6 separate regions of the Homo sapiens genome follow, and regions 1, 3, 4, 5 and 6 are each linked to region 2. The links come from fine-mapping of genetic effects on plasma protein levels. A gene starts in region 2. Each other region holds a variant in brackets. All regions are shown on one strand. Distances are between the middles of the regions.

Evidence for each region. PIP is the chance, under the fine-mapping model, that this variant and not a neighbour inherited with it causes the effect. The UK Biobank Pharma Proteomics Project read protein levels with antibody pairs (Olink). The fine-mapping took linkage between variants from a reference panel, not from the people measured, so its PIPs are less certain.
Region 1: its variant is fine-mapped to the plasma level of the HAVCR2 protein (UK Biobank, PIP 0.92).
Region 3: its variant is fine-mapped to the plasma level of the HAVCR2 protein (UK Biobank, PIP above 0.99).
Region 4: its variant is fine-mapped to the plasma level of the HAVCR2 protein (UK Biobank, PIP above 0.99).
Region 5: its variant is fine-mapped to the plasma level of the HAVCR2 protein (UK Biobank, PIP above 0.99).
Region 6: its variant is fine-mapped to the plasma level of the HAVCR2 protein (UK Biobank, PIP above 0.99).

Annotation. Positions count from the first base shown.
Region 1 is chr5:156,328,490-156,333,569 of GRCh38, forward strand. It overlaps SGCD (sarcoglycan delta), which reads left to right. Exons shown (of 9, transcript NM_000337.6): 2 at 1,045-1,090. The coding sequence starts at 1,088. The region is part of intron 2 of LOC124901120 (a long non-coding RNA gene); the gene reads right to left. Among named protein-coding and RNA genes, the nearest start is that of SGCD, 3.9 kb to the left of the region's middle. The variant A/C (reference allele first, on the strand shown) is at 1,969.
Region 2 is chr5:157,106,632-157,111,722 of GRCh38, forward strand. It overlaps HAVCR2 (hepatitis A virus cellular receptor 2), which reads right to left and starts at 2,413. Exons shown (of 7, transcript NM_032782.5): 1 at 2,295-2,413; 2 at 1-331. The coding sequence starts at 2,352. RefSeq lists an enhancer at 2,200-2,349.
Region 3 is chr5:156,119,119-156,124,209 of GRCh38, forward strand. It overlaps a transcript of SGCD not described here. Among named protein-coding and RNA genes, the nearest start is that of SGCD, 210 kb to the right of the region's middle. The variant G/C (reference allele first, on the strand shown) is at 1,993.
Region 4 is chr5:157,675,908-157,680,998 of GRCh38, forward strand. C5orf52 (chromosome 5 open reading frame 52) reads left to right here. Exons shown (of 3, transcript NM_001145132.2): 3 at 3,934-4,251. The coding sequence ends at 4,092. Among named protein-coding and RNA genes, the nearest start is that of C5orf52, 6.9 kb to the left of the region's middle. The variant C/T (reference allele first, on the strand shown) is at 2,470.
Region 5 is chr5:156,158,976-156,164,066 of GRCh38, forward strand. It overlaps a transcript of SGCD not described here. Among named protein-coding and RNA genes, the nearest start is that of SGCD, 170 kb to the right of the region's middle. The variant C/A (reference allele first, on the strand shown) is at 2,919.
Region 6 is chr5:156,568,786-156,573,785 of GRCh38, forward strand. All of the region lies in intron 4 of SGCD (sarcoglycan delta), which reads left to right. Among named protein-coding and RNA genes, the nearest start is that of SGCD, 240 kb to the left of the region's middle. The variant C/T (reference allele first, on the strand shown) is at 2,020.

The DNA.
Region 1 (5,080 bases), 780 kb before region 2:
TTTAAACAAGTAGCTAATAGAAGAGCCTGAAGTTAATGCTGAAAGAAAAGTGGAGAGCCAGCATTTCTCATTGCTTCCTCTGCATAAGACCTAGAATGAGAAGGCACACATTCTGTCCTGTTGGTAGAAGGTCAGGATTTTCAGCCAGCGATTTTCTTTTTTCTTCCAAGTGTTGTACTTGGAGGAGGGACCTGGGACAGGACTGGCAGCAGGATATCTTTAAGAGATGGTTCATGAACATTTTCTTTATTAGTTTCATCTTCGTGTTGGGGTGGTGTGGGGAGGGTTTGGGGACTGCAGGGCTTGAGGAAAGGAAGGGGGTGTAGTTAGAAGTCAGGATGGACTGTGACCTTATTTTTTTCTCTAAAGTGCCTAATGAGTGAGAAAAATGCCAAGACAGATTAGGAACTGGCATGAACCGTAGTCAAGCCCACTGCCAATGAAAAAGGGAGCCTTCCATGAGCTCGGGTGTCATACTCCTCTATATTTAGCGTGCGTCAAGCATTGAGCAGAAGAGGCGTGAAATAGCAACTCCAGGTTGCAGGATTATAAAGAGCAGTGCTTGAAACTTGGTAGAAACTCTATAGTTTCTCTCTTTTTTAGAAGTAAAGTAGGGAGAAGTCAAGCTCTCTTGACATCTGAAGAGAAAAAGTAAGCAGCGGAAGGGGGAAGGATACAGAGGAAGAAATCCAGGACAGAGGTGGAGGCAGTGAAGGGAGAGGAATGGCCACAACACAAACTGGGCAGTGAGGGTGGAGGGAGGAGCCCTTGGCACAGGAATGAAACACATGTATTAGAAATAGCCAAAGCCACCAGGCACTGATTTGTTGGACTGGAGGTGTGCAGATACTCAGTGGCCTTGGTGAAGAGAATTGTTTTAGCCACTTCACCACAGGAGACTGCATGGTCAGCCTGCCCTGCCTTCTGGAAGTAATCAGAAAGCACATTTTGTAAGAATGGCATTGCCTGAGGGTTCAGATTTCCTAGGCAAGGAGGGGGCAGGCTCTTCAGACCTTATTTTTAACCCATATTTGTTCCTTGCAGAGACATTACTGCCGGGAGTGTTGAGTGAAGGGACCAGGTGGAGATGGTGAGTAATTCCCGGGAGCGAAGCTTGTTCAAGGCCCTGCTCATGGTCATTTTATTATTAACATAAACTTTTGAAAAAGAGAACAAAGTGTTATATATGCCTTATCCTGATGAAGACATTTCTTTAATTTTACTTTTTTATTTTAAAAAATCTGCAGGCCAGGCACGGTGGCTCACGCCTGTAATCCCAGCACTTTGGGAGGCCGAGGCAGGTGGATCACGAGGTCAGGAGATGGAGACCATCCTGGCTAACACGGTGAAATCCCATCTATACTAAAAATACCAAAAATTAGCCGGACATGGTGGTGGGCGCCCGTAGTCCCAGCTACTCGGGAGGCTGATGCAGGAGAATGGCGTGAACCCGGAAGGTGGAGCTTGCAGTGAGCCAAGATGGCGCCACTGCACTCCAGCCTGGGCGACAGAGCAAGATTCAGTCTCAAAAAAAAAAAAAAAAAAAAAAAATCTCCAAGGGCACATACTACATCGTTGGTTGTACATGTGTTGAGCTTCCCAAATCCAAAAATCTGAACTCTGAAATGTTTCAAAATTTGAAACTTTTTGAGCACTGACATGATGCTCAAAGGAATTATTTATTGGAACGTTTCTGATTTCGGATTTTCAGATTTGGAATGCTGAATGGTAAGTATAATGCAAATATTCCAAAAATCCAAAAAAATCTGAAGTCAGAAACACTTCTGGTTTCAAGCATCTTGGATAGTTTCCTAAGCCACGTCTGACGAACGTGCTGGTACTGGGGGCAGAAGTGGGGTTGAGAGAGGGAGGAAAGGTAGAGGTGGTCAGAAATCTTAGGTCAGGTCCTGGCTCCATTCATCTTCAGATCTCAGGTTTCCTATCTGTAAGATGATCTGATACCTCTGA[A/C]TTGTTTTCTGTTTTCACAACCTATGATTTTTGTAATCCTGAGGCTCTTCCTTTTCTTTAAGAATAACTCTTAGTCTGTCTCCCTTAAGGCTGGGTGTCTTGAGTCATTTCACCCATTTCTCCATCTTTTCCTGCACTCTTTCTTTACTCTTCTTTGAACATATTTCAGTGAGCCTTCTCCTGACAAAAACTATGGCTCCTTGAGCTCAACTTAGTCATCTGAACAATGCACATTCCATGGTGAGGACTTCATACATGTGTTAACCGAAAAGGAAGAGGGTGATTGTAGGGAGAGGAAGCACAGCAAGAAAGAAAAAAATGGAAGGTGGTATCATCTTGCTGTGGAAGAAAAGTGGTTATATTGTGAACTGAGCTCAGGGTCTGCCTCAAACGAAGACTGGGGTCCTGGCTGTGTGGCCATAGGCAAGTTACATCATCTCCAAAATGTGTCCCAATTTCCTAATCTCTAAAATGGACAAGACAAAAGTATCTGCCTAATAGTGTGTTGTGAGATTGTACAGATAATGCACTTAGCATTGTCTTTTGCACACAGTAAGCACTTAAATATGTCAAATATATTAATACATATAGTTAAGATGAACTGAGATAGCACCAGGCAAATCAACAAAGAGTGAAAAAGGTAGAGCAAGGTAAAACAAAGAGTTCAAACAATCAGCAAAGGAAAGGATGTTTTACTCTGAATTATCTGGGTTACTTTTCCTGTGTTGCCCAAATTTCTCTAGAAATTCCACATTTCCCTTTGTTTCACTTTTCTTGCCACACAGAAAGGTCTTCATTATTGTTTCAAATTCCTATTGCAGAGTGTGAACTGCCTCATACAAAGGAAACCATGTAAGCTGTAGCCTCTGACCTGCCTCTCAGACAGGTCTGTAGGACTGGGGAGGAACATGTCACCGTGGTTCACTTAGTATATAAATCCTGTGAGATTGGTTTGCTCAGAAAGCTTTGTTGGTGGTTGTATTAATGGAGCTCAGGATGTGTAGGAGGATATGGATGCAATCACTTTATTCTTCTTTTTCACTGATAAAGCAATGGCACCTATTAGAGCAAGCACAATTCCCTGATAAAAACTATATTGCCAGGGATTAGAAACTCCCTCCTTGCTCAGACCACTTTTCCTTGCCAGAGTGATAGGATCAGACTGTCTTGTGAGCACCTTGACTTCCAAATAATATATTGTGAATGCCTGGAAACCCTGCTGTTACTTGCTGGAGTTGACATATTCAGCCACTGAAACTATTCATTGAGTTCAGAGTAAATAAATACCAGGGTAAGCTCCTCTCTCCGAACGAATCATTCGACAAAATCTTGTACTAACCCTCATTGGGGTTGTGATATTGGCACTGTGTATTCAATGAAAGAAAATTGTTCCAGGATAAGGACAGCGGGGAACAGAGCCACGCTGTGTTCCTTTCATTCCTATCGTTACCTATGGTTGACTTCTCTCCTCTCTCTTATTCTATAATCTTTCTAGCCCTTTCGCTCTTTCTTTATTGGGTTCCATTCACCCTTGCAAGTTTCTTTTCTCTTTGTTATTTGTTCAGTGTGTGCTTACCAAAGTCCTTATCTGCTTCCCTCAGGGGTCAGGAATATTGGTAATAGGCCAGTGTCTGGACAGCATAATTTTTACCAGGTAGTGAGAAAGATTAACTCCTAGCATTGGCTGAGACCTTCAAAAGTTTGCGTCCCCACCCCTCTGATGTTACCAGGCTGCTGATACAAACAGCAGGTCATAAACCGGCAACCCAAAGGCTTGGACTATAGGTACATTTTGGTTCACAAAGTGTTTTTTTGTTTGTTTGTTTTAATTGACTTATGAAATATTTAAACATCTTAAGATATCATAATGTTGATCTTCTAGAAAAAGCTGAAGATGGGCATTCCCTATGTAATTTCTTGGGCACAGTGGCTGGTGGCCTGTGGTCAGCTCCTGTCCTTTTGAGAGGGCATATGCCTACCTCATTCATTGACCCCGCTATCTGACCTGTACATGTTTACATTTGTCTGCTCTATTTTTCTAGAGTTTCTCAACTGAACCAAAGAAAGCAGACGGTTATTTGAGTGACCATGTTCTCTGTTCTCTCAAGGGTGGTGCATATTCTAGACACATAGGAGAGAAGTTAGGGCATAATTAAGTTGTGGCTTCATTCTCTCAGAGAACACTGTTGAGATGGTCTAAGTCTCTGTTGAGCAGAGTCGCAGGAGGACAGTATGGTGGCCAAGAATCCAGACCTCAAAATTAGAACCACCTCATCGGATTATAGCTAAGACTGAAAACATTAAATGTGATAGATATCAGAATACTCACAATCTCTGGGGAAGGGAATTGATTAAGAGGAGTAATAAGAGAATTTTCTCGGGTGATAGAAATGTTCCCTCTCCTGTTTGAATATTGTTCCCAAAGATGTTCAGATTTGTAAAACTCATTGGGCTATGTAGCTAATATCTGTTTGTTTTACTAGAAGTAAATTATTCCTCAATAGATGTACATACATATATACATATCTACATGAAAGCATGCAAAGTGCTTAGAAAAATGCATGCTGTTTAGCTATTTTTATCATACTTGTTTCTAGAAACTTTGATTTAAAAAATATGTAAAATGACCAAAAACGAGATGAGCATTTCCTTTCCTACCACAGGTTTCATTGCAAGCATTTGAGAGCGCAGGTAATAGCTAAAGATTCTTGCCAAACACAATTGTCAAGGGAGAATCTACTGGATCAATTCTAATTTTATGAAACTATTGAATCACTATAGAAGGATGTGCCTAATTTGTTGTAGCTGCTTTTCATGATGCTGTAAAAATTTATAGGTTTTAGAGACATATCAAAGATGGTTTATTACCTGGGACAAAATGCCTATACTTAGAGTAACTTTCACTCTGGCTGGAATACAGTAGTCACTCAATAGGTATTCAATAATATGTCTTAAAATTAATATCCATATTAAGAACTTCTAGCTAATACAATCACAAAAATATTGTTTTTATTAGTAATCACATTGTTATAATCAATTATTCACATATATCTAGAAGCATTTAATATAAGAAATGAGAGAACAGGTTTTCCAGCCAAACACTCTGGATTCA
Region 2 (5,091 bases):
TTGATGACCAACTTCAGGTTAAATTTTTCATCATTCATTATGCCTGGGATTTGGATCCGGCAGCAGTAGATCCCACTGTCTGCTAGAGTCACATTCTCTATGGTCAGGGACACATCTCCTTTGCGGAAATCCCCATTTAGCCAGTATCTGGATGTCCAATAATTCACATCCCTTTCATCAGTCCTGAGCACCACGTTGCCACATTCAAACACAGGACAGGCTCCTTTGCCCCAGCAGACGGGCACGAGGTTCCCTGGGGCGGCTGGGGTGTAGAAGCAGGGCAGATAGGCATTCTGACCGACCTCCGCTCTGTATTCCACTTCTGAGGACCCTGCATAGAGAGAGAAGGAGAGCCAAGACTCAAGCGGTGAGTGAGGTTACTCCATTTCAGGAAAACTGCAAGCCATGTCTTACAGAATAAAGAGGAAGCTACTGCTGCAGTCCTGTTTGGAGGATGATTCGCTGTGACAATGCTTCTCAGATGTGAAGGCCATCAGAATCACTGGGAAGCCTTGCGAAAACACAGATTGCTGGGCTCAACTGCTAGAGTTCCTGACTCAGTTGGCCTGTGGTAGAGCCTGAGAACTTTTATTTCTAACAAGTTCTCAAGTGTTGCTGAAGTGGCTGGTCTCAGAACCTCACTTTCAGAAACACTGCCCTAGGAGAGAATTGTGGCCCAATTCTGTGAACACGGGAGAACAGGGCTGATGGAAACAGACAATCAGAAAATTAGTCATGGTCAGCCAGGAAACGGCCCGCCCATCTGGGCTACTTGCTTGTTCATCAACAAAGGGAGGCTCTCCTAACATACTTCTCTTTTTAAGCAGCAAGTGCACAGTAAATACAAACCCTTGGTTAAATAAGGATCTTGTGTATTTGAAACTACTCATGGAGTTGTTTTAAGGTTTAAAGTTGTGAAAAGAAATTAAATTTTGGGACCCCAAACTCATTCAGTCAAAGGGAAAAGTCAAGCTGGGAACTGGGTCACAGAAACCTGCCTCCTCTTTTTGATTCCTGAATAAGATGGCTACAGGATGAAAGGCTGCATACCTCCCCCATATTTTGCCCACAAGGAAATTCCTGGTCAGCTGTGCAATGCAGATTGATAGCTCATCTTTACCGGTGCGGTCACCCTGGCCAGACACAAATGCGTTATCTGATTGTTTCCCTACCCCATTTTGTCTGTGTTATCTAATGTAAAATGCAGATTCCCCATATTTTTCCTCTGCCCCCCCCCCTTTTTTATGTGAAAACTGAGTGCTTCTCAATATCCCACCTTGTCCCCTTTAAATCTGGAGCCCTCAAAATCATCTTCTGAGAAAGTCATAGACCTGTCTCTCAGGTGCCTCCTTAACTTTGGCAAACAAATCTCCTAAAATGATTGAGACTTGTCTCCTCATTTTCCTCAAATGACAAAGTTAATTCCATTAAAAAAAAACTATATATATTTTATATATGATAAAACATTCATTATATATTTTCTTTTGATTTTTTATGTCCCCTTTGTTTTCATATGACTCAACTACAGTAAAAACATTCAAACACTATCAAAGGTGTATGAAAAAGTGGCCGGGCACACGGTGGGTCACGCCTGTAATCCCAGCACTTTGGGAGGCTGAGATGGGCAGATTACTTGAGGCCATGAGTTTGAGACCAGCCTGACCAACATGGTAAAACCCTGTCTCTACTAAAAATTAAAAACATTAGCTGGGTGTGGTGGTGCACGCCTGTGATCCCAGCTACTCCGGTGCCTAAGGCAGGAGAATCACTTGAACCTGGGAGGCGGAGATTGCAGTGAGCCAAAATGGTGCCACCACTGCACTCCAGCCTGGGCAATAGAGTGAGACTCCATCTCAATTGAAAAAAAGAAAAAGAAAGAAAAGAAAAAGAAAAAAAGGAAAGAAAAGAAAAGAAAAATATGCCTTACTCTCCCAACTCTTTACCATTCCCTGGTTCCTTTTCCTAGAGCTTATACATTAAGAAATGTCCACATATTCCTGCTCCCCGACAATGCACACACACAAATAGAAGCCTAATATATGCATTATTCTGCAACTTTTTTTCTTTAATAACATTATAATTTTGAGACATTCTATACCAGTATGTTTTGTCAGACTCACTGTTTGTATCATGATTATATCACATTTATTTACCCACTCCCTCATCGACGGACATTTAGGTTGCTTCCAAGCTTTTGCTATTACAAACAACATTACAATGGCCATCCTTGTATCTCTCCCTTGTCCTCTGTACAGCACCATTATGTCATTGTAAATATCCATGCCGAGACTTACTTGTAAGTAGTAGCAGCAGCAGCAGCAGGACACAGTCAAAGGGAAGATGTGAAAACATGGAGCTTGCAGAAGAAAAGTCAGAGGACACCTCTGTTAGGCACAGTTTTAACTCTCCAAATGGACTGGGTACTTCTTCCAACTGTCTACTCCACAATCACATGAGCAGTAGCCGCCCCCACTGAGTGCTAGCTCAGCACACCCGGGTGTCTGATTGCCAGTGATTCTTATAGTAACACTGCCAGGTCTACAGTCACATTAAAGGAAACCAAAGTTCTCTGTCATGCCACACTACACACATCCTGTAAGTGTTCTGATGTCTGTCCTGTGATATCAACAAAGAGGAAGCAATACTTCAGTGGAAGAAAACGCTACTCAGTCATGGCACATAAAGAGAACCCTCTAATAATGTCTCAGATGAGATACACCTGAAATGGAGCATGTCCGAGTCCATCTGACTAGCGGGGAACACAAAGTACAGATGCATCATCCATGGATTCATTCACTCAAATCAGTCCCTTCATCAGGCCTGTGACCAAAGTTTATGAAGCCCCTACTTTGCACCAGGCACTGGACTAGGAAGTGGAACACAACAGTGAATGGCATGTTCCTTATCCTCACATTTACAGACCATAGCAACTCCCAGCATAAGCCTCACTCTCATCCTTCTTCTAACACAGATTAGGTTGTATCCTATAACCTTGCTGAGTCTCAGTTTCCTCATTTATATAATTTATAAAATGAGAAAATTGTATTAGATAATACATGCATGGCTCTCTGTTCTAATATTCTGACTTTGACCTTCAAACTTCCAACTCTTCAATTTAGAAAAAACATGTTCCTTTTGGCAACAGTTCCTTTCCTCTACTCTGAGTAGAATTAAGGGGATCTTGGTATCCTGTTTCATCTCATGCATACAAGGTGCCCCCTCTCCCCTACCCCAAGAGGCTTTGGCCATGAATGATCAGAAAGTGTTGAGTTCCAGCCACACTCCCATAACTGAGGTAACAGCTTAGACTCACGTAGCCTCAGCTCTGGGAGTGTGACCTTTATCTGGACACCTTAAAAGCAAAAGCTTTTTTTTATAAAAGGGAAGTGAGCTCACAGGCTGAGTGGTTTCTGAAAAGCCAGTGGCCTTCCTCTATGTCTTGCCTTCCTGAGTTTCTTTGTCATTCACATTTATGCCATTAAATGCATTGGGTATAAATACCAAATTTGTTCAATATAAACAAATGGCATTTAATATAAATATGCAACTTGTTCAATGTGTGTACTTCCCATAGCATTGCAGAGTGGCAGTTACTCAAGAGATCATAATCAATTTCTCATTTTATTTTATTTTATTTTTATTTATTTATTTATTTTTTTGAGATGGAGTTTCGCTCTTTTTGTCCAGGCTGGAGTGCAATGGCATGATCTCGGCTCACTGCAACCTCTGCCTCCCGGGTTCAAGTGATTCTCCTGCCTCAGCCTCCTGAGTAGCTGGGATTACAGGCATGTGCCACCACCCCGGATAATTTTGTATTTTTAGTAGAGACGGGGTTTCTCCATGTTGGTCAGGCTGTTCTTGAACTCCCGACCTCAGGCGATCCACCCGCCTCGGCCTCCCAAAGTGCTGGGTTTACAGGCATAGCCACCGCGCCCGGCCAATTTCTCATTTTATAGACAAGGAATCTGAGACTTCAGAAAATTGATTTGCCGAAAGGCACATGATTGGTGATTTAGAATGAGAGCATAAGCCCCCTAAGTGACAGATTTTTTCCACTATAAATTATGTTTTATTAATTTAATGTTTGTCTTCCCACATAACTAATAACCAGCAAATGACCATATTCAAGCATAAGGTAGAATAGATTAAATATGGGGTCTGGGGTTATTTTTATTAGCAGCATGAACTTGGTCAAGGCTCTTAAAAGCATCAGCCCTCAGTTTCTGTGTTTTGTTTTGTTTTGTTTTTGTTTTTGTTTTGAGACAGAGTCTTGCTCTGTCGCCCAGGCTGGAGTGCAGTGGCGCGATCTCGGCTCACTGCAAACTCCGCCTCCTGTGTTCAAGCAATTCTCCTGTCTCAGCCTCCCAAGTAGCTGGGACTAAGAGCGCACACCACCATGCCCGGCTAATTTTTGTATTTTTAGTAGAGACAGGGTTTCACCATATTGGTCAGGCTGGTCTCGAACTTCTGACCTCAGGTGATCTACCTGCCTCGGCCTCTCAAAATGCTGGGATTACAGGCATGAGCCACCGTGCCCAGCGATGTTTTGTTTTTACCACTTTGTTTTCTGCTCATTTCTAGAATTGCTACTGAGACCAGCTTTATAAAACATTAACAATTTATTAGTTCATTAAAGTCTAGATATGAAGGGGTCTAGAGATCTCCTTTAACTCTCTTGTGTGTGTAGGGAGCTGGTTCTGAACATTTTCATGTTCACTTAACTTTTATTTCCTGTTTATTTTCTTAAAAACTTTAGATAATACATTCAAATAGTTAAAAAGTAAAAGGAATATAAAAAGCTCAAGAAGCCTTGATCCCATGATCCCATCCTTCCATGTTTACCCCCATTTCTCCCACCTATGCTATAGGTTTTCTTTTTTTTTTTTTTTTGACATAGAGTCTCGCCCTGTCACCCAGGCTGGAGTGCAGCGTCACGATCTCAGCTCACTGCAACCTGCGACTCCCAAGTTCAAGCGATTCTCCTGCCTCAGCCTCCTGAGTAGCTGAGATTATAGGCACCTGCCACCGTGCCCAGCTAATTTTTGTATTTTTAGTAGAGATGGGTTTTCACCATGTTGGTCAGGCTGATCT
Region 3 (5,091 bases), 990 kb before region 2:
GTACCTTCTTCTATTTGTGTGCCTTTACTATTCTCAGCAGAGACTGAGCTGGGCCAGTTTTCAGTTAGACTATTAGGAGACTGAGATATTCCTTTGGATTTTAAGTTGTGTCATTTCTGAGTGTCAGAACTAGGTTTAATCAGAAATAAAACCTAGGAAAGAAGCAATGGTGATTTTCAGCATGTTTGCTGAATGTCAATATGCTCCAGGGTCAGTTCTGAGTTTGAATCCCGACTTGTCACTTCCTAGTTATGTGATTTCAATCAGATTACTTAATGTCTCCAAACTCAATTTCCTTCTATGCAAATAGAGTAATACACATATTGGGAAGCATTGTTGGCAACAGGAATGCTGTGTGTAGGTGTGTATACCTATATGGTATCTCCACGATCACACTTCTTAAGAGGTAAATCTTTACAGCAATGCTTCTTTAATTCCCAGTAGGACCCAAATCTGTTGGCATAGTTTTAAATTTAAATTCGTCATTAGATACATTTGGATCCATAGTTCATCCTTTCCCCCAGCACACTTCTGCTCAAAAATCTTAAGACCCACTTAGAGTTGCTAATACCTTCTGCTGCTCCCACTCTCCCTGGTTTTGCCTTCTCGGGATGCCCACCTCTCTTGGGAGTCTGTCTTGGTGCCAGGGTATCTGTGAAACCCGTGTCTGTGTGTGCTTTATGCTCACAGGAATCATTTTTAACACAACCTAACCATTAGAGAGGTGTGGTTCACACTCTGCCATCAGAGCAACCACTAATTGATACCTTTTGAAAAATGACAGATTCCCTGAAGCGTTCAAGGCCGCCTGACAGGCAGAGATGCCACCTACCTCTATGATTAGCACTCTCCCATGCAGACACTGGTGATTTAAGACATATGTTGTTCTTTCTTGACATTATTTTCTTTCACATTATTCCTAGTATATACTTTCTCATTTTATTTTACCATATAATAGCATTAATCCCTTTATTATTTCCAAGGATTTCGAAAAAGCTAATTTCTGAAGCTGTGCCCTCTGGACCTAGTGTCCTTTACTGTGCCATGTGGCATCTTGTTAATGGGTAGTGGAATTTGGTGAATACTTTTTTGTTTCTTTGTTGAAGGAGGGAAATAAAGCAGAAAGAGGTGTGTAGGGGTGGGAGGTGAGGAGCAAAGTAAGGAAATGAGTGTTGTTCCCAAGAAAACCAAGAATTATAGAATTGTCTCTCTCTATCAAGCAGAAATTGAGATATTTATGTCAGCACACGCTATATCACTACTTGAGATAATCAACAAATTTGTAGGAATTTGTCATGTCTACTCATATCTGGGCAACGTTAGGAAATTACAAAAGATAAAGAAAAACTGCTAGAACAAAGGCTTAATGAAGGTAGGAATAAAGTCACTATTATCCTCTACCATATCCCCAGTCTTTAACAAAGTGCATGGCAAAGATTATATATTTCATAAACATTTGCTTTGTAAATGTGCTTTGGATCATGTCCTTGGATGACTTAGAATGGATTGTAAGTACCTTTTCTCTGAAGCATTGTAACTATTTATTAGGTTGGGATGTAACTAAACCTGAAAGGTAGGTGACATATTTTTATGTCATTACTACCTGAACATAGACAGTTTCTTAATATCAGTTAAGAAAAGAAGAAAGAAAGATGCATTTGGATAGACTTGAGACTAGAATTATCAAAGCAGTCAGCACAATTTCTTTAATAACTCCATCTATCATTGTGCTGAATTACAGCATTGTTTGCTTCCAATGTTGTGTCTCTTGGCTTCAGAATGCAGGAATAATTGTAGACTGTGCCTTGACATTCCAGAACCGAGGCCAAGATCATCCTCAAATTGCCGGGTACGAGAAAGCAGACAATAAATGAATCAGAAAACATGACTTTCTCATGTTACAATGTTCCGCCATCTGCCCAGGAATGTGGGGGCAGCTGGGGTAGCTGCATACAACTGATCCTGGAGATGGTCCAGACAAAGTTGCCCAAA[G/C]TCATTAAGGGCTACAAAAGCAATGTCATATGATAAAAGATGGAAAGATTCAGAATCCAGTGGGAACTAAGATGAAGGTAGATACATTTATGAAATGTCATGCAGAATATAAGCCTGCAGCAGTAAAAACTTTAAAAATAAAGAACAGTAAAAGTTTATTGAGCACTAACATTATGTACAGTAATGAATGATTTACCTATGACTTCATTTCTTTTGCATAAACATCCTAGAGGGATAGGTATTTTCATCATCTCTCTTTTATAGAAAAGAAATATGATACTTAGAGAAGTTGATTATCTTGGCCAGGGTTCCACAGTGGTGGAACCGGAACCTGAACCGCAGTAGTAAACCCCAAAGCCTAGTTCTTAAACATTGCACCATATTTCCTAACCACTTTTAGACTACTGAGGATAAGGGAGCCTTTTATCAGTTAAAAAAAGAAAATGATCATTTTTGGGAGCTGAAGATCTTCAAAGGTATTTATGTTACCGCAATGAGGGGTAACAAAATAAAAATGAGGGGTACCCCAGGGAAAGGAAGGGACAACCCTAAAGGCAAATGACAAATTGGTGACCAAATTAGATTTAGATCTAAAGTCCTTTGATGACTGCCCAATACCTTTTCCCTAAATGCATCTCTTCCCTTTTTTGTTGTCTAACCCTGGATTCCTTTACTTCATACTTTTTATAGTAAAGCAGGGGCTGAGAGTTGAGGGAATGACAAGAAATAATGGCATGGAAGCAAAGGCAGAAAATCTGAAAACAGCATGATGAAAGTAACAATGAGATTTCAGTATTAGCCTGTAAGCAGAGTCATCCCAATACATGCCACACATACTCTTTAGAGTATCTCCTAGAAATAGTTTTGGGGCTTTTGTTTGCTAGCTTCCCAAATACAACTAACATTCATCTTTTGCATCACACTCCAGACTATACAAATCCTTTTCCTAAGCCCAACACTAGAAGACATTCATCTAGTCAGTATTCCATAGTTGTCAAAAATACTGGAGATGGAATGCTTTTGGTTCAAACCAGGCTCAGCCACTTATCATCTGAGTGGCCATGAGGTTTACTTAACCTTACTGTCTGCTTATTCATTCATTCAAAAAATATTTATCGAGCTCCACTTCTGTGCAAGGCTATCAGTGAAGTGAAGTGCTGGAGACACAGCAGAATACCCGAGATAGAATTTCTTGCATGCATGGAGTTTACATTTTATTGGGGGATGACAGATAATAAACAGGTAGACATGTAATACATCAAAAAGACTTTTAAATCTAGAGAAAGAGGGATGAGATATGTGGTATGAGTTTACAATTTTAAACAGGGTAATTTTACAAGGGTCCTCACTGGAAAGGTAACATTTGAGCAAAGACGTGAAACAGTGAGGAGAAAAGTTTCCCAGGTAGAGGGAATGATGAGTTCAAAGGCTCCTAATAGAATCAGAGGTGTGTTAGAGGAGCAGCATGGCTAGAGAGGAATAAATGAGGGGGAAAAGAGTGGAAGATGAGGACGGTGGTAAGAGAGATGCATCAAATATCAAGCAGGATCTTTATGGCCATTGCAACAACTTTAACTTTGAGTCTGAGTGAGGTGGAAGGTTTTGAGCAGGGGAGTGTCATTCTCTTACATGGGTCTGGTGGAGAGTACCAGCCCTAGTCTGAGAGAGCCTGCTGTGCAACCTTGTAGATCTTTAATGATGTCTTGCACCAGCATGGTAGTAAAAGATGTGGTAAAAAAAAAAAAAAAAAAAAAAAAAAAAAAAAAAAAAAAAAGGTCAGCTGCTGGATTTATTCTGAAGATAGTGCCACCAGAATGTGCTGATGAAATGGACAATGTGAGGTATATAGGCAAGACAGGAATCAAGGTTTACTTGGAGGGTTTAGGCCTGACCAACTGGGTGAATAAAATTGCCATTGACTGAGAAGGCATAAACTTAGAAGAAGGAGGGCTTTAGTATTTTCCAGGTGGAAGCTGGTGGTGCTGATGACTAAGTCATGACCTCAGTTGGGTCATCTTATATCTGACATGCCCAAGTAGAGTTGTTGAAGAGTCAGTTGATTGAGTTTAGAGTTCGGGGAAATATCTGGGCCTGGAGACAAATCTCAGAGTTGTCAGAGTATAAATGGTATCTCAAGCTGTGGACCTGGAAGATGTACCTGGTGAGAAAGTGTGTATAGAGAAGAGGCTCAGGACTGAGCCCTAAGATCTCCTTATGTTGGAAATTGGGAGGTTGAAAAGATGCAATAGAGGTAGCCAAGATGGAGTGGCCAGTGGTCGCAGTAAGATTGGTACCTTAGAAGTCAAGAGAGGGAGGTATTTCAAGGTGGAGTGATGCACGGTCTCCTTGTCTTGCTTTGATGATAGACCAGTGTTAAACACATTGTTTTTGTATACTAAAGATTTGCTTGACACACGGATTGAACTGTGCCACAGACAATGAATTATCATGGAAAATCGCTTTTGCTCTCCCATCCTCAGTTTCCCTGTAAGTTAAATGAGCAAATTTGATTTGTTAAGTCCTAAAATACCTTCCAGCCTTGATATACTATGAAATTTTTTTTTGGTATGATTCTTTAATTCAGTCAAGACTGAATCCATTCAGGGATTCTGCAATTTTATGACAAACAGAATCTAAAGTATCTTTTGTTTAGTCTCTCCAAACCAAATGGCCTTTAATTTAATATCACTCTGTCTTGTTTTTGTTTTTCTTTATGGACATTGTCTTTCTCTGTTGATTTTGTAGACTTGGAAGAAACCTCCATCCTCAGGGATTTGAAGAAGGTTATACTGGAACCTGTGTGAAGGCTGAGACAACCGTCCCTTTTGTGGTGGCCTGAGGGGATTTTCTTAATCCCAATGTTGCCCTGAAATTTATGTCCAGGATTCAAAAAGTTTAGGACTGCTAAGGTATGAGTTTGTGACTTTATTATTTTCTAAGACAAATGTGAACATTTAAAGATATTTATCCATATTTGCAGCCTTTCTCCTCCCCCTTTCCCTGACCTTCTTCTCTTTACTTTGTCTCTTAAAGGAAAGATCTTTTCTATCTTGAAAAGATACCATCACTTATGGGATGTGTTACCACAGGTAAAGATAC
Region 4 (5,091 bases), 570 kb after region 2:
ACTGTTCCCATAGACCCTGATTGATGGATTCATTAAACCTGTCCTTAGGGCCTGCTTGGGACAGGTACTGTGTTGGGCGCTAGGAAGAGACAAGTGAACAAGATGGACTCCAGAAACACACTCATTCTTTCAAGCAGAGCAGGGTGCCCAGGGTTGAGCTGCTGCCACCTTCTTTTCTTTTTTGAGACAGAATTTCATTCCTGTTGTCCAGGCTGGAGTGCAGTGGCGCTATCTCAACTCACTGCAACCTCTACCTCCCGGGTTAAGCAATTCTCCTGCCTCACCCTCCCAAGTAGCTGGAATTACAGGCATGCACCACTACGCCCGTCTAATTTTTGTTTTATTAGTAGAGACGGGGTTTCACCATGTTGGCCAGGCTGGTCTCAAACTCCTGACCTCAGGTGATCCACCCACCTCAGACTCCCAAAGTGCTGGGATTACAGGAGTGAGCCACCACGCACAGCTGCTGCCTGCTTCTTGACTCTTTTGAGCTTCCTTCCATGTTCCAGGGTCAAGTCTGGATGGGCCCACAAAATTCTAACATTAAAAACAATTGGAGATCCTTAAGAGATGGTGCCAGATCCTCTTGAAGGTCACAAACACCAAAAGAAGAGTAGGGACCCGGGCATTTCTCTTTCTGCTACACTTCCATGGGTGTGGTGTAGTGGAAATAGATGGGCAAGCCAGCTTTGTGTGACCCTGTGTGAATTACACTTCCTCCAGACTCTGCTTTCTCATTTGTAAAATAGGATCTATTAAGATCCTCTCAGTTGCAGGTAACATAAACTGAACTTGAACTAGTTCGAGCAAGATAGAGAAGTTGGGTTTACATAATCAAGGATGGATAGGGCAGAGTCGCCAATGTTTTTGGGGAAAGTAGCCAGGGGCTGTACTACCACCAGGTATGTCTTCCATTCTCTCTCATCATCTTTGTATCCCCTTTTTTTAATTTCCTTTTTTTTTCTTTTTTTTTTTTTTTGAGACAGGGTCTCACTCTTTTGCTCAGGCTGGAGGGCAGTGGCATGATCACAGCTTGCTGTAGCCTCAACCTCCTGAGTTCAAGCAATCCTCCCACCTCAGCCTCCCAGGTTGCTAGGATTACAGGCACGTGCCATCATGCGCAGCTAATGTTTTGCACTTTTAATAGAAACGGGGTTTCACCATATTGCCCAGGCTGGCCTCAAACTCCTGGGCTCAAGTGATCTGCCCATCTCTGCTTCCCAAAGTGCTGGCATTATAGGCATGTTCCACCATGCCCAGCCCTTTGTGGCTTTCTGTATTTAGTAGGTAGAGGCCAGGGACACTGCTGAATATCCCGCAGTGTATGGGACAGCCCTCCACCACACACTGCCTAGCTCAAAATGTCAGTAGTGTCAAGGTTGAGAAACCCTGATTGGTAAGAGTCATGCTCAAGGTAAAATCACTAGTTGAGAGAGGCCAAAAAGCCTACTGTCATGGGGTGTACTAGAAAATGGTGGTAAGCCAGGGTGGTGGCTCACGCACTTTGGAAGGCCGAGGCGGGCGGATCACCTGAGGTTGGGAGTTCGAGACCAGCCTGACCAACACGGAGAAACCCCTCTCTACTAAAAATAGAAAACTAGCCAGGTGTGGTGGCACATGCCTGTAATCCCAGCTACTTGGGAGGCTGAGGCAGGAGAATTGCTTGAACCCTGGAGGCCGAGGTTGCGATGAGCCAATATCGCATAATTGCACTCCAGTCTGGGCAACAAGAGTGAAACTCCCTCTCAAAAAAAAAAAAAAAGAAAAGAAAAGAAAAGAAAATGGTGGTAATAAGGTTGGGCACAGTGGCTCACACCTGTAAGCCCAGCACTTTGGGAGGCTGAGGCAGGTGCCTCACTTGAGGTCGGGAGTTTGAGACCAGCCTGGCCAACATGGTGAAACCCTGTCTCTACTAAAAATACAAAAATTAACCTGGTGTGGTGGCTCAAGCCTGTAATCTCAGATACTTGGAAGGCTGAGGCACAAGAATCGCTTGAACCCAAGATGTGGAGGTTGCAGTTAACCAAGATTGTGCCACTGCACTCTCCCTAGCCTGGGCAATAGAGTGAGACCCTGTCTCAAAAAAAAAAGAAAAAAAGAAAATGGTGGTAATAGCAGCGACTTGGTAATGGGGCTGGATCAGAATAATCTCAGGTGCATGACAAAAGTGGAGATTGCTGGCCCCCATCCAAACCCTATTAAGCAAGAATCCTTGGGGCCTACGTTTCTATCAAGCAACTGAAATGCTTCTGATGCTCAGCCAGGTTTGGAGAACACGGACTTGAACTATGACATTTAGTGCCCACCCTCCCTCTTTAATTCCTCATGTCAAGTAATCATGTCAATATTGACTGGCCTTTATGAAGAAGTCCTTTGCTTAACCTTGTGCTAGGTCTTCAGATAATGTTAGTGCTTATCAGAATCCCCTGGAGGGCTTGTTAAAAAACGTACATTCCCAGGATCACCACC[C/T]ACCACATTGTTTCTACATGCCCCAAACCCTCCCATCCTTCAAAACCTAGCCTCAGTTTATATGCTAACTTCTCTGGGTAGCTTTTCTTTTCTTTTCTGAGACAGAGTCTCGCTCTGTCACCCAGGCTGAAGTGCAGTGGCATAATCTCGGCTCAATGCAACCTCTGCCTCCTGGGTTCAAGCGATTCTTGTGCCTTAGCCTCCTGAGTAGCTGGGATTACAGGCACATGCCACCACACCCAGCTAGGTTTTTTTTGTATTTTGAGTAGAGATGGGGTTTCCCCATGTTGGCCAGGCTGATCTCAAACTCCTGGCCTCAAGTGAGCCACCTGCCTTGGCCCCCCAAAGTGCTGGGATTACAGATGTGAGCCACAGCGCCCAGCCAAGTGAAATTTGTCGTGATATCTCCCTTCCTTGAACTCTGTGCTTCTTTTGGAAGTGGATCACTTTCTCTCTTAGAAATATTTGGGCATGTGGGCCGGGCACGGTGGTTCATGCCTGTAATCTCAGCACTTTGGGAGGCCGAAGCGGGTGGATCACGAGGTCAGGAGATCGAGACCATCCTGGCTAACATGGTGAAACCCCGTCTCTACTAAAAATACAAAAAATTAGCCAGGTGTGGTGGCGGGCGCATGTAGTCCCAGCTACTCGGGAGGCTGAGGCAGGAGAATGGTGTGAACCCAGGAGGCAGAGCTTGCAGTGAGCTGAGATCGCGCCACTGCACTCCAGCCTGGGTGACAGTGCGAGACTCCATCTCAAAAAAGAAAAAAAAAAAGAAATATTTGGGCATGTGTCTTACATCCTGACTACATTGGAGTTACTGTGAAGACCTGTGGCAGTTTTTCTTAGTATCCTCTCCTGTAGCTAGCTCATTGGAGTAAATGCATAAGACATAGGATGTTGGCTTCCCACACCTTACCGCCTTTTGGGGGACAGGACAGAAGTTATACAATAGAAGAAATAAGTAGAATTCAGTGTGAGACAGAGTCTCACTCTGTTGTCCAGGCTATAGTGCTGTGGTGCGGTCTCGGCTTACTGCAGCCTCCACCTCCTGGGTTCAAGCAACTCTTCTGCCTCAGCCTCCCGAGTAGCTGGGATTACAGGTGCCTACCACCATGCTTGGCTAATCTTTGTATTTTCAGCGGAGACAGGGTTTCACCTTGTTGGCCAGGCTGCTCTCAAACTCCTGACTTCAAGTGATCCACCCTCCTTGGCCTCCCAGAGTGTTGGGATTACAGGTGTGAGCCACTGCGCCAGTCCTTGGAGTTATCTAGCTTAATGCATGCTTTTTACAAATAGAGAAATAGGCTCTCTGTGAGTCAAAGTATATGGAATGTACATAGGGTCCAGCTGACACTTTTCCCACTCCCCCATCAGTAGCACAGATGTCTGCCCTGCTGCGAAGTAATCCTAATCTCACCTCTTTAGGATCTTGATCCTAACCTCACCTCTGTTTTTTGTAAGGTGAGCGCTTTAGAGAAGACCAAGAAAAAGATCAGCCACTACTATGAACACCTGAAAAAAAAGTTCATGACAGAGCAGCTCAGAAAGCTCGGGCGATGGAGAGAGGAATCCGTGAACAGCAACCGGTACTTAACCTTCGGGATACCACCACCAGTTTAAACTCCAGTCTCCCAAGAAAGGCCAACCACCCTAGTTCTGGCAAAGGGATCTGCCCCAGGGTCACGATGACACCAGTGTGACCCGAGGAGAACTAGTAACTACAACCTACACAACTGTAGAACAATAAACAGAAACCAGCAGACAGCGGAGCATAATAAATCCTCAGCAATCCTCATATTCCTTGCCCATGCATCCCCTCTATTTGGTGAAGGAGGTCCTGATAGTCTCGTAGATGCTCAACTCAAAAAGGTGGGATCAAGCTAGCTTCCATGCTTAAGGCAAAGATTGACCTCTCGGTGCCCACATGTCTGAGGTGACATGCCGGGCCAAGTGTGCTGGGACAATGGTACCTTAGATGGAAGGCCTCAGTAATGCCACTGCCTGGCATTCCAGTGGTAAGGAGGTCAGGGGGAGGCATCAGAAGGACCTGGCTTAAGTGCTATTTCTACCACCAGTCAGTCTTGTGACCTTGTCACCTCCTTGGACCTCCATTTCCTTATCTGAAAGAATGTGGTAGTAGTAAGGGAACCTACCTCCAAGGTCTAGCATGAGGATGTAAAGTGCTGAGCCCAGGGCTCATCATTTCCAGTGGTTCTCACCATGATGGCTCCAGTAGCCTTCCAGTGGTCCCCACTCCCTGTTCTGCCTGCTCTCCAGACTACACCTGGATAGTCCCCACACTGTAGCTTTATTTGCGAAGATCCTTCATCTGGAATGTCCCTTTAGCTCTCTCTTCATCCTTCAAGGCTTATCTGTATGTCATTTCCTACATGGCATTTTTTTCTTTTTCTTTTTCTTTTTTTTTTTTTTTTGAGATGGAGTCTCACTCTATCGCCTAGGCTGGAGTGCAGTGGCGCAATCTCGGCTCACTGCAACCTCCGCCTTCCAGGTTCGAGTGATTTTCGTGCCTCAGCTTCCTGAGTAGCTAGGATTAAAGGCATGCGCCTCCACACCTGGCTAACTTTTGTATTTTTAGTAGAGAAGGGTTTTCGCCATGTT
Region 5 (5,091 bases), 950 kb before region 2:
TTGAAGGCAGAAGACTTATCATCATTGTTTTGAGAAGCAGCATGCTATCTTTGAAAAATAATGGGATTTGCAATTCCCATCTCATTCCTCAACTTTTATTAGCGTATGTGACCAGCACTCTGAGCCTCATTTCCACCATTATAGGAATGGTAATATCTGTCTTGGCTATTTTGCAAGATTATTTGGAAGGTCAAATGAAATAACCAAAGAGCCTTAAAAAATGTCTAGTGCTATGTGTGCAAAAATATGTGGTTGTAATTCATCAGAATATAGTCATAAGTAAAAGCTATAAACTTCCTTAAAGAACAAAATTACGTAGATTTTACTTTATGTTCTGAATATTTACTGAGTAATTGGAATAATTTAAACTTTAAAGACATGATTATTAATTTTAAATTATCTATTCTTTGAAATTAGAGTTAAGCAAATGAAAAAAATCTAGCATCTGGAAATTTGAGTCTCAGCCAGGATACATATTATCTTTCTCTGAACCACTCATAAAAAAAACAAAACAAAACAAATAAACAAACAAAAACCCTATCATACCTTTGGCTTCAGAAGAGGCTGTATTTTTTTCAGATTGTAATAACCAATTTTGGATATTTAAATACTGTTTATGAAACATTTAGTAGAATTTATTACTTCTGTTAACTACAGCTAGAATAAACATTGGATAAATAAAATTCATGAAATATAGAAAAGTATCTACAGGAAAATGAATCATTAATTTCCCAATTTCAGAGGTGATCACTGTGCATTTTTATAAATATTTACACAGATATTTTTCTTACATAATTGAAATCCATTGTAAAGTTTTTATTTAATATATTGTAAGCATTTTTCTTGTCATGAATTATTCCAACGTAATTTTAATGGCTACATGAGAATACCTTCTTTAACAAATCTTGTATTGTTAAATATGTAGATTTTTGGAAAGTGTTTTTGATTATCAAGAAAAGCTGACATATTTTTCTTAAGTCCCATGGAAGACTTGAGTTTGAAAGAAAATAGCAAATTGTGGGTTCTTAAACAAAGAAATGTGTTCTTTAGTAAATTAGCTTTCAGTTAATATTTCAGTCAGTATAATTCACGAACTGAAATCTGTCTGAAACAGTTTACACATATTTTCAAATCTTTAAGACATATTTTTCACAAGTGCTTTGCCATGAGTTGTAATAATTACATAATAAATAACACTATCTCAGAAAAGGAAATATGTCATCATCTTAAGCTACATTATTAAGAGATTATAATATGAAACTAGAAGGCAATGAAATTTATTTTTAACTAAGATATATCAGCACAAAGATCTCTTCCAGCATCAGTCTTATATATACTAATTTGAAATTCTTAAATAATTGGTCTTCCGAGTTTTTCTATTAAAAAAGCTTCACTTTCTATATTTTATTCCTGCAATTCATTTATTAAAAGTAATAATGTGAAAATGCCACAAAATCACATTTATTTAAAAATATTCTTTATAGTCTCAAGATGCGTCCAGAATCATATAAATCAACAACTGTAACAAATTAAATCTAATTATTGCTGGATTCAGTTCATATAAGAGGGTATCTCTTATTATAAGTGCTTTGTTGAGTTATATTTCCTAAGAGGAAGCATTTTTATTTTAAGATTTTGAGGAAGAAATTGCACATATATTCTTGATTTCAATATTTAGCCCTCTATAGCATTTACGCCTTTAGCCTTTGCTAACATTGTGCTTGATTTAAGTTTCTGATTTTTTTTTGCCTCTTCTTCATGTGTGCCCATCATCACGTAATAGTAGCTTATTGTTTGAAGCTACTTCACTTGATATTTTCTGTCTTTTCTTCCAACTTGTTTGTCCTATTCTTGCCTCTTCCCTTAATTTCTTCTCTTAGATTAGAGGCCAGCAAATTTTTCCTCTAAAGAGCTAGATAGTAAATATTTTAGCCTTTGTGTAGCACAAGGCCTCTGTCAGGACAAAACTTTCTCCTTATATGCAAGAGCAGCCATAGACTATACGTAAATGAATGGCTGTGGTTGAGTTCCAATAAAACTTGATTTGCAAAAATAGACAGCAGACTGGATTACCCTTATAGCCTGCTTAGATATTGGCATAATACATTTCTTTACCATGTGTCTTTTTACTTACAAGTGTCTATGGCTTTGTTTCCAGATATCTATCATAAATATTTTTGAAACTAAGGGAATCAATGCACGAACATATCAAAGATCGGGAATTTTTGTTTTATCCTGAAGATACCCTGTCGTCTATTTTACTTTTGGGAGAATGGAAAAGTTTTTATGTAGGATGGAGAACAAGAAAAGCTTTATTTTTGCTTCAAACTCTGTAGTAAACATTCACTTTTATATCACAGAGAAAATTCTCATTGACAGGTTAGTTCCTCAAATTTCATTCAACCAAACACCTTGATAATAGTAATCATAGCTCACAGTAATTAAGTGCTTACCGCTTTCCAGTCACAGGACTAAGAACTATATGTTTGCCCTTAGAGCAAATCCCAAGGGCATCGTCTGTTGTCTGTTTTATGGATGAAGAGACTGAGAGCTTCAGTAACTTGCCCAAGGGCACAAAGCTGGTGAATTGCAGAAATAAAACCAAGGCTATATATGTTGGACACCTAAACCCATGCTCTTCTATGTTAACTTCTTAGTCACTGCTTATACTTTCTAATTCTACTGTAAAACAAGAAATGAGTGATACAGAAGAGATGGGAGAACTATTATATGTTTGCAGTGTAGACATGAACATTTTCCTCATCTTTCCTTCCTACTTCCTGGATCTTCCTTAATTTTGAATCATAATTATATGTTTAAATTAAGAAGCGTGAACTTCTTAATGTTTCTGAATATAGCAACTGTTTTATTCCAAAGTCACAAAGTCAGATGTATGAAAATGTAACTCTCTTTTTCTA[C/A]AGCCTCAGTTCCATCAGCCTCCCAGTCTAGTTTTGACTGTTAAATTCAGTCACATGCAGTCATTTATTGTTAATTTCAGGTCAAACTTTTGATTTCCCCCCACTCATATTCCTTTCTGGAGTAAATTTCAAGTGCCAGGGTTCCTTACCCTAGATTCTCTAGGAAACAGAATGTGTGACAGAATTTACCTGCTAATGAGTTTGTAGTCCCAGGGTGGTGGGGGTGGGGGTGGAGTGGATAAAGAGAGGTAAGCCAAGGAAGGAAGGAAGCACAAAAAGTTAAATTACAAAACTGGCTGCAGTTTTGCAAATAAACACAGATTCCTTCCTTCCATTGGTCAATATTTTGTCTACACTTCTGAGATTTTCAAACAACCTCTCCAGGCTACTGTTGGGGAAGCTACCTCCCATGTTCAATAAGCAGTGTTGCACCTGAGTCTAGAAGGGAGGAGTCAGAGACTCTGTGTTATGAGGGTGTTAAACTTGGTAGCCAGAGACCCCTTTTGAGGTGTGTGTGATGGAGGTTGTTCTGCAGTGTGGCGTGAGGTCTTAATAGTGTGTGCAGCTCTCCATTGAGCAAGTGGTCAAGGACCAGGGAACCAGGTAGGGCTGAATAAATCAGTCAGTCTTGGATTTGACTCCCTTTTTTCTTTGGTCTCAGCTGAGATGTGCAATCATCCTCTCATGTCCTACTATGGTTTCTGAAGAGATGGTGCATTGTACTCATCACCATTCCCCCATCGTTTTGTCCTTGAGGACTATTTGAACCTCCTGTTCTCTCAACTGATGCCTTCTCCCTGCTCAGAAGATGGGAAGCTGTTTACTGTTCCCTCATGTTCCTCTAGATCTGCAGAAAGCAATTCACATGCACATCAAAACACTGGCTTAGGGCACAGCTAAAACATTCTGCCTCCTGAATTACATGTAGGGTATGAACCATAATTCCCCTTGACTCTAAAATCCTTAACTTGAATGGGTTCTATAATAGCCCACACACTAACCCTGGGGGATGAGGCAAGGCAGCCATTTATCTTCATGTCATCTAATCATCTTGGTGTTTATCTAACTTCCCTCCTTCTCCTCCAGCTAACAGGCTTGCTTTTCTCTGCTTGCCTGGTGGGTATTGGGATGGCAATGTAGCCCAGCTTCTCTCTACATCTTTTCTTTCTTAAGGTGCATTGCAGAGACTTTTAAATTCAATAGCCAAACATTTCACTATTGTTTTTTCTCCTTTCTCTCATTGATCCATGATAAACTTTCTTCCATTTGGAAAATGCTGGATTCCACTTTCCCAAATGAGGGATTATAAGAAAATACTAAAGTACTAAGGATTGAGGAAGATACTAAATAGTTAAGATATTCATATCAACTCACCACTTGTGTATGCAAATGGAGGAGTGAGACATGTAGGAGTGAGAGTCAAGTTTTGAGGAACCCTGTCAGAGTCCATGTTTCCGTAGGAGCCCATCAGAGCCATGGAGGAATCTACTAGCTTGGCATGACTCTGATGTACTTTGTCTCAAAGTCCGTTAACAGACACCACCATTAACCACACATAATTTCCTCATAGAGGGAGGCATAGTCAGTCCTCAGCTGTGCTTACTGTGCTTTCTCCACCTAGTAAACCAGACCTGTTTGACCTGAAACTTTACATGGTGCTAGATAATGGCTTCTTTTATTTCTTTTCTGTCCTGAGGTAGTACATTCCACTGACTCCTTATGCTGAAATTTACTCCATTACCTCAAAGCTATGACCAGGCATCACTCAACAGGCACTCAGAAATGACACGAACTGATTTCTGGTTTTGGAATCTACCAATATTATTATCAAAAGAAATCATTTTCGGCCGGGCGCGGTGGCTCACGCCTGTAATCCCAGCACTTTGGGAGGCCGAGGCGGGTGGATCACAAGGTCAGGAGATCGAGACCATCCTGGCTAACATGATGAAACCCCGTCTCTACTAAAAAAAATACAAAAAATTAGCCAGGCGTGGTGGCACGCGCCTGTAGTCCCAGCTACTCGGGAGGCTGAGGCAGGAGAATGGTGTGAACCCAGGAGGTGGAGCTTGCAGTGAGCCGAGATCATGCCACTGCACTCCAGCCTGGGCGACAGAGCGAGACTCTGTCTCAAAAAAAAAAAAAAAAAAAGAAATCATTTTCATTTTCTGCACGT
Region 6 (5,000 bases), 540 kb before region 2:
AGGGAAATGCATTAATGAACCACATTTGTTTCAGTTTCTCACAGTTCATTGAACTACGCATTGCTAATGAGGAACAACAGAGTGAACATATTATGTAATATCACTGATCATATCACGTACTGTAATAGAATACCATGAAATCATTATTATGTATGTACACCAATATTACAGAATTCATGGCCATACAGTAGTCACCATCTTGGTTTTCACCTTTTTCAATATCTTTCTTTAAAGTGTAGGGTCTGGATCTGAACATTGTATTCCAGATGTGCTCTTACTGTAGTGGGTAAAGCAGGACCATCCTCCCCTCTTCTAGGTACCACAGTCTAAAAGCTTTCTGGCAGTCAGCGAACTCAGCGAACTCATATTGGCTTTGATATTTATTCATGTGAAAAATATTTTTGTACCCACCATGTACGAGACACTTGTATGCACTGGGGATGCATGGGTAAACAAAAGAAAGTCCCTGCCTCATTGATCTTTTATTATACTAGGAGGAGACAGACAAAAAAAAATAGACAATCAGCCGGGCATGGTAGCACACGCCTGTAATCCCAGCACTTTGGGAGGCCGAGGCAGGCGGATCACCTGAGGTGAGGAGTTCAAGACCAGCCTGGCCAACATGGTGAAACCCTGTCTCTACTAAAAATACAAAAATTAGCCAGGCATGGTGGCATGCACCTGTATTCCCAACTACTCAGGAGACTGAGGCAGGAGAATCGCTTGAACTTCGGAGGCAGAGGTTGCAGTGAGCCAAGATCGCCCCACTGCACTCCAGCCTGGGCGACAGAGTGCATATTGATTTTTTGAGACCCTGTCTCAAAAAAAAAAAAAATAGACAATCAGACTTATAATAAAATTCTAAGCCATGCTAAGTGAAATGTGGAAAGAGAGAGCAAGAGTAAGAGGATGGAGAGTAAAGAGGCTACTGTGTTAGGCAAGGAGGTCAAGGCAACCAGGTGGATATGGAGGACAGAGGGAGGCACTTCCAGGCACAGAGAAAAAGAAGTACAAATTCCTGTAGGCAGGAAGGTATGTGGATTGTTTGAAGAACAGAAAGAGGCCAATCCTGCTGGAGTAGTAATAATATGGAGAAACCCAGTAAGAAAGAAAAATATTGAGGAGGTAGTAGCAGACCGGATCATGTAGGATCTTGTAGTTAGGAGTTTGAATTTAAGCCTAGCTGTGACAAAAAGCCATTGAAGGATTTTTTTCCCCCATGAGAGTGACATAATCTGTGTTGAATTTGAAAAGGATTACCTGACTGCTCTGAGGATAATAGAATTTAGGAGGGCAAGAGTAGAAGCAGGAAAATCAATATGGACTAAAACAGCTATGTTTACATTTCCAAGATATGTTCATTTTTAATTATCTTTTTAATTTGATTTATAATTTAATGGCACTAAAGTCAGAAAATGTATTCTGTGTGGCACTGTTGTTTGGCATTTCTTTGTGAACTAGGACATTATTTTTGCAAATGGTTTAGTATAATTGAAAATAACGTAGATTCTCAATTTCTTGGGTGCAGAGCTCTACACATCCATTAGTTCAAACTAGTTAAATATGAGCATTCAGGGTGTCCACATTCTTGCTATTATTTGGTCAGCAGAATCTATCATTTTCTAATAGATTTTTGTTAAAATTTAATGCTAGCATTTGCTAAATTTCCTTCATACTTCTGACAACTTTTAATTAATGTGTTTTAAGCTACATTGATAGATACATACCTAGTCATGATTTATAGCTTCCAGTCATATTTTGTTGTTTTTATATGCAGTCTCTGTGGAGTACATGAATGCTTTTTGCCTTAAATACTGTTTTGTCTAATACTAATTTTGATACCCAGCTTTCTTTTTAACTTTTAAGTTCAGGGGTACATGCACAGCATGTGCAGATTTGTTACATAGGTAAATGTATGTCATGAGGGTTTATTGTACAGGTTATTTCATCACCCAGGTATTAAACCTATTAATAGTATCCATGAGTTATCTTTCCTGATCCTTTCCTTCCTCCCACCCT[C/T]CACCCTCTGATAGGCCCCAGTGGGTGGTGTTCCCCAGCTTTCTCTTAGTAAGACTTTGCCTAGGGTGTCTTTTGCCATATCTTTATTTCTAGCCTTTCTATATTGTTTTGCTTTAAATATCTCTTTTATAAGTAGTATTTACTTGCAATTTTGTACATGTTATGGATATTTTCTATTCCTACTATCTTGGTTTGTATTTCTTCTCTACCATTCTCTTTCTTTTCATCTTTTTTGTTTTTTGTTTCATTTTGTTTTTGTTGAGACAGAGCCTTGCTCTGTCGCCCAGCCTGGAGTGCAGTGGCTCAATCTCAGCTCACTGCCACTCTGCCTCCAGGGTTCAAGTGATTCTCCTGCCACAGCCTCCTGAGTAGCTGGGATTACAGGTGTGTGCTATCGCACCCAGCTAATTATTGTATTTTTAGTAGAGATGGGGTTTCATGATGTTGGCCAGGCTGGTCTTTAACTCCTGACCTCAAGTGATCCGCCTGCCTGGGCCTCCCAAAGTGCTGGGATGACAGGATGTGAGCCACTGTGCCTGGCCCTTCTTTTCTCCTTTTTAAACATATTTTTTTTGGTCTTTCTTTCTGGCAGTTTCTTTTTTATTCCCTCTCTTTATGTTCTACTGGCTTATTAAGTATTTATATTCTCTCTCTTAGATATGATATAGGGATCAGTCTGCTTTAACTGTCCAGTAACCTCTATAGCACCCTTTCCTCTCTCTCCCCCTGAATGTATAAACCTTGCAGCAGTGAGCTTCACTGCTGTCTCATCTCTTTGAGAACTCTTAAGGTCCCCTCTAATTCACTTGAGCTAAGCACACAATCACAGTCTCCGTGGCCTGCTTCTAGATCCTTATGCCAGCAAGCCTTTGGCTACAGCCTTCATGGTAGTTAGTATTTCTGCTTCTGGTCCACAAAGATGATAATCCCCCAAAACTGTTTTACTGTGGTAAAATACACATGATATAAAATTTACCATGTTAACTGAAGTGTATAATTCAGTGGCATCGAGTACATTTATAATGTTGCACAACCATCACCATCATCTAGTTCCATGATGCTTTTTATTACCCCAAACAGAAACGCCATATCCATTCAGCAATCACTTTTATCTCTTTCTCCAGCTCCTGGCAACTGCTAATCTACTTTCTTGTGGAATTGCCTACTCTGGATATTTCAGATAAATAGTATCATATAGTATGTGGCTTTTGTGTATAGTTCCTTTGACTTAGTGTAATGTTTGCAAGGTTCATCCATGCTGTAGCATGTATCATACCTCATTTTTGCAGGGGAATAATATTCCACAGTATGGATATATCACATTTTGCTTATTCATTAATCTATTATTGGGCATTTGTATTGTTTCCGCCCTTTGATTATTATGAATAGTGCTACTATGAGCATTTGTGTACAAGTTTTTGTTTGAATATCTGTTTCCAATTCTTTCTGGTATATACTTAGGAGTAGAGTTGCTGAGTAATATGGGAATTCCACGCTTAACTTATTGAGGAACTGACAAGCTGTTTTTCATAGCAGTCGCACCCTTTTACATTCCCACCAGCAGTGTATGAGGGTTCCAGTTTCTCTACATTCTTGCCAATATATGTTATTTTCTGTTTTTTTTCTATTATAATTATTCTAGTGGGTGTGAAGAATTACCCAATTTTTAGCCTCATTTTAACTTACCGGGTTTCCATTTGTTGTTGTTGTTGTTAGCCTAACATTGCTGTGGGCTTGGAGCAAAAGAGTCAATCAAAACATGACCTGATCTCTCCAACCTGAAGTCTTTTATCAATTCTGGCCATATTTCTTAAGTAGACAATTGAATGAAGCACCCATAAGCCAAAGTATCTGATCATATAGCCATTACTTTTCAAAGAGTGTGAAAGGAGATATTCTCTTTGTGGGACAGATAGACACATACTAATTGAAGCAATCAAAGGTTGCTTCAAAAAATTTCCTCTTTTGACATCACCCCTTTCCAACCAAACTAATATAATGTAGACATTAGCTAGTTAAGTGAGGAGAGTGGAGAATATATGTGCTTTTCCTGTGAGAATTGACCTTCCTCAAAGGATTAGTGACGACTACAAAATCACTCCTCTTGTCTCTCTTTTGACCTGTCCACAAAATTAGAAATTTTGACCAGCCAAGAAAGAAATTTAGGGTACACAAAAATAATTAAGAAATGTACATATTACCTGTATTTTTCAATGCTTCTTCAATAATGGTCATGTTTTTATGAATATTTTTGTATTTTATATTAATGATATTTATGATTATGAACATATTGTTTATTCATGACTTTTTATGATCATAAAAACAATACATGGTCATTTCTTTTCCCAATAAAAAAATTGGAAGCACATACTGTACTTCTTAAGAGCTTTACAGACTCAGCAGTCTTAGAGTATGAAGGTCTCAGCCTTGGATTTGGATAATGAGCCTGGGATCCAGGTCAGGTTCTGCATGACCTGAAGATTACTGCTTAACTTTTCTGTAAATCTGAGAATCACGTGGACACAAAGTTGCAACTACTTTGCCTCCGGTCATGAAATATTTTGTTTGAATACCCTCATTTTTGCCTGCCCTTCATGACTGCCCCACCCAGGTGAACCTGATTTAGGACCCCACATGGACTTAGTGTTTCATGTCCTAACTTTAATCAGCAGTTACTTAGCCTTTCTCCATTCTCCCCAAGCCTAGTTCTCTATGGCAGCTGGTGAAATTCATCCCTCCTCTCAGACTGGAAGGCTCACAGGTAAAGAACAGCATTGACTATGGAACCGTCAGACACCTTTTTGGTCAAGGTGCCTTCTTATGCATCCTGAATCATACCAGAGAGTCAGCTAGATACACATTCTATGAAGGGATCTCTTCTTGTTATTTTTTATTAATTTTTTTAGAGATGGGGGGTCTCACTCTATCACCCAGTCTGGAGTACAGTGGCCTGACCATAGCTCACTGTAACCTCAAACTCC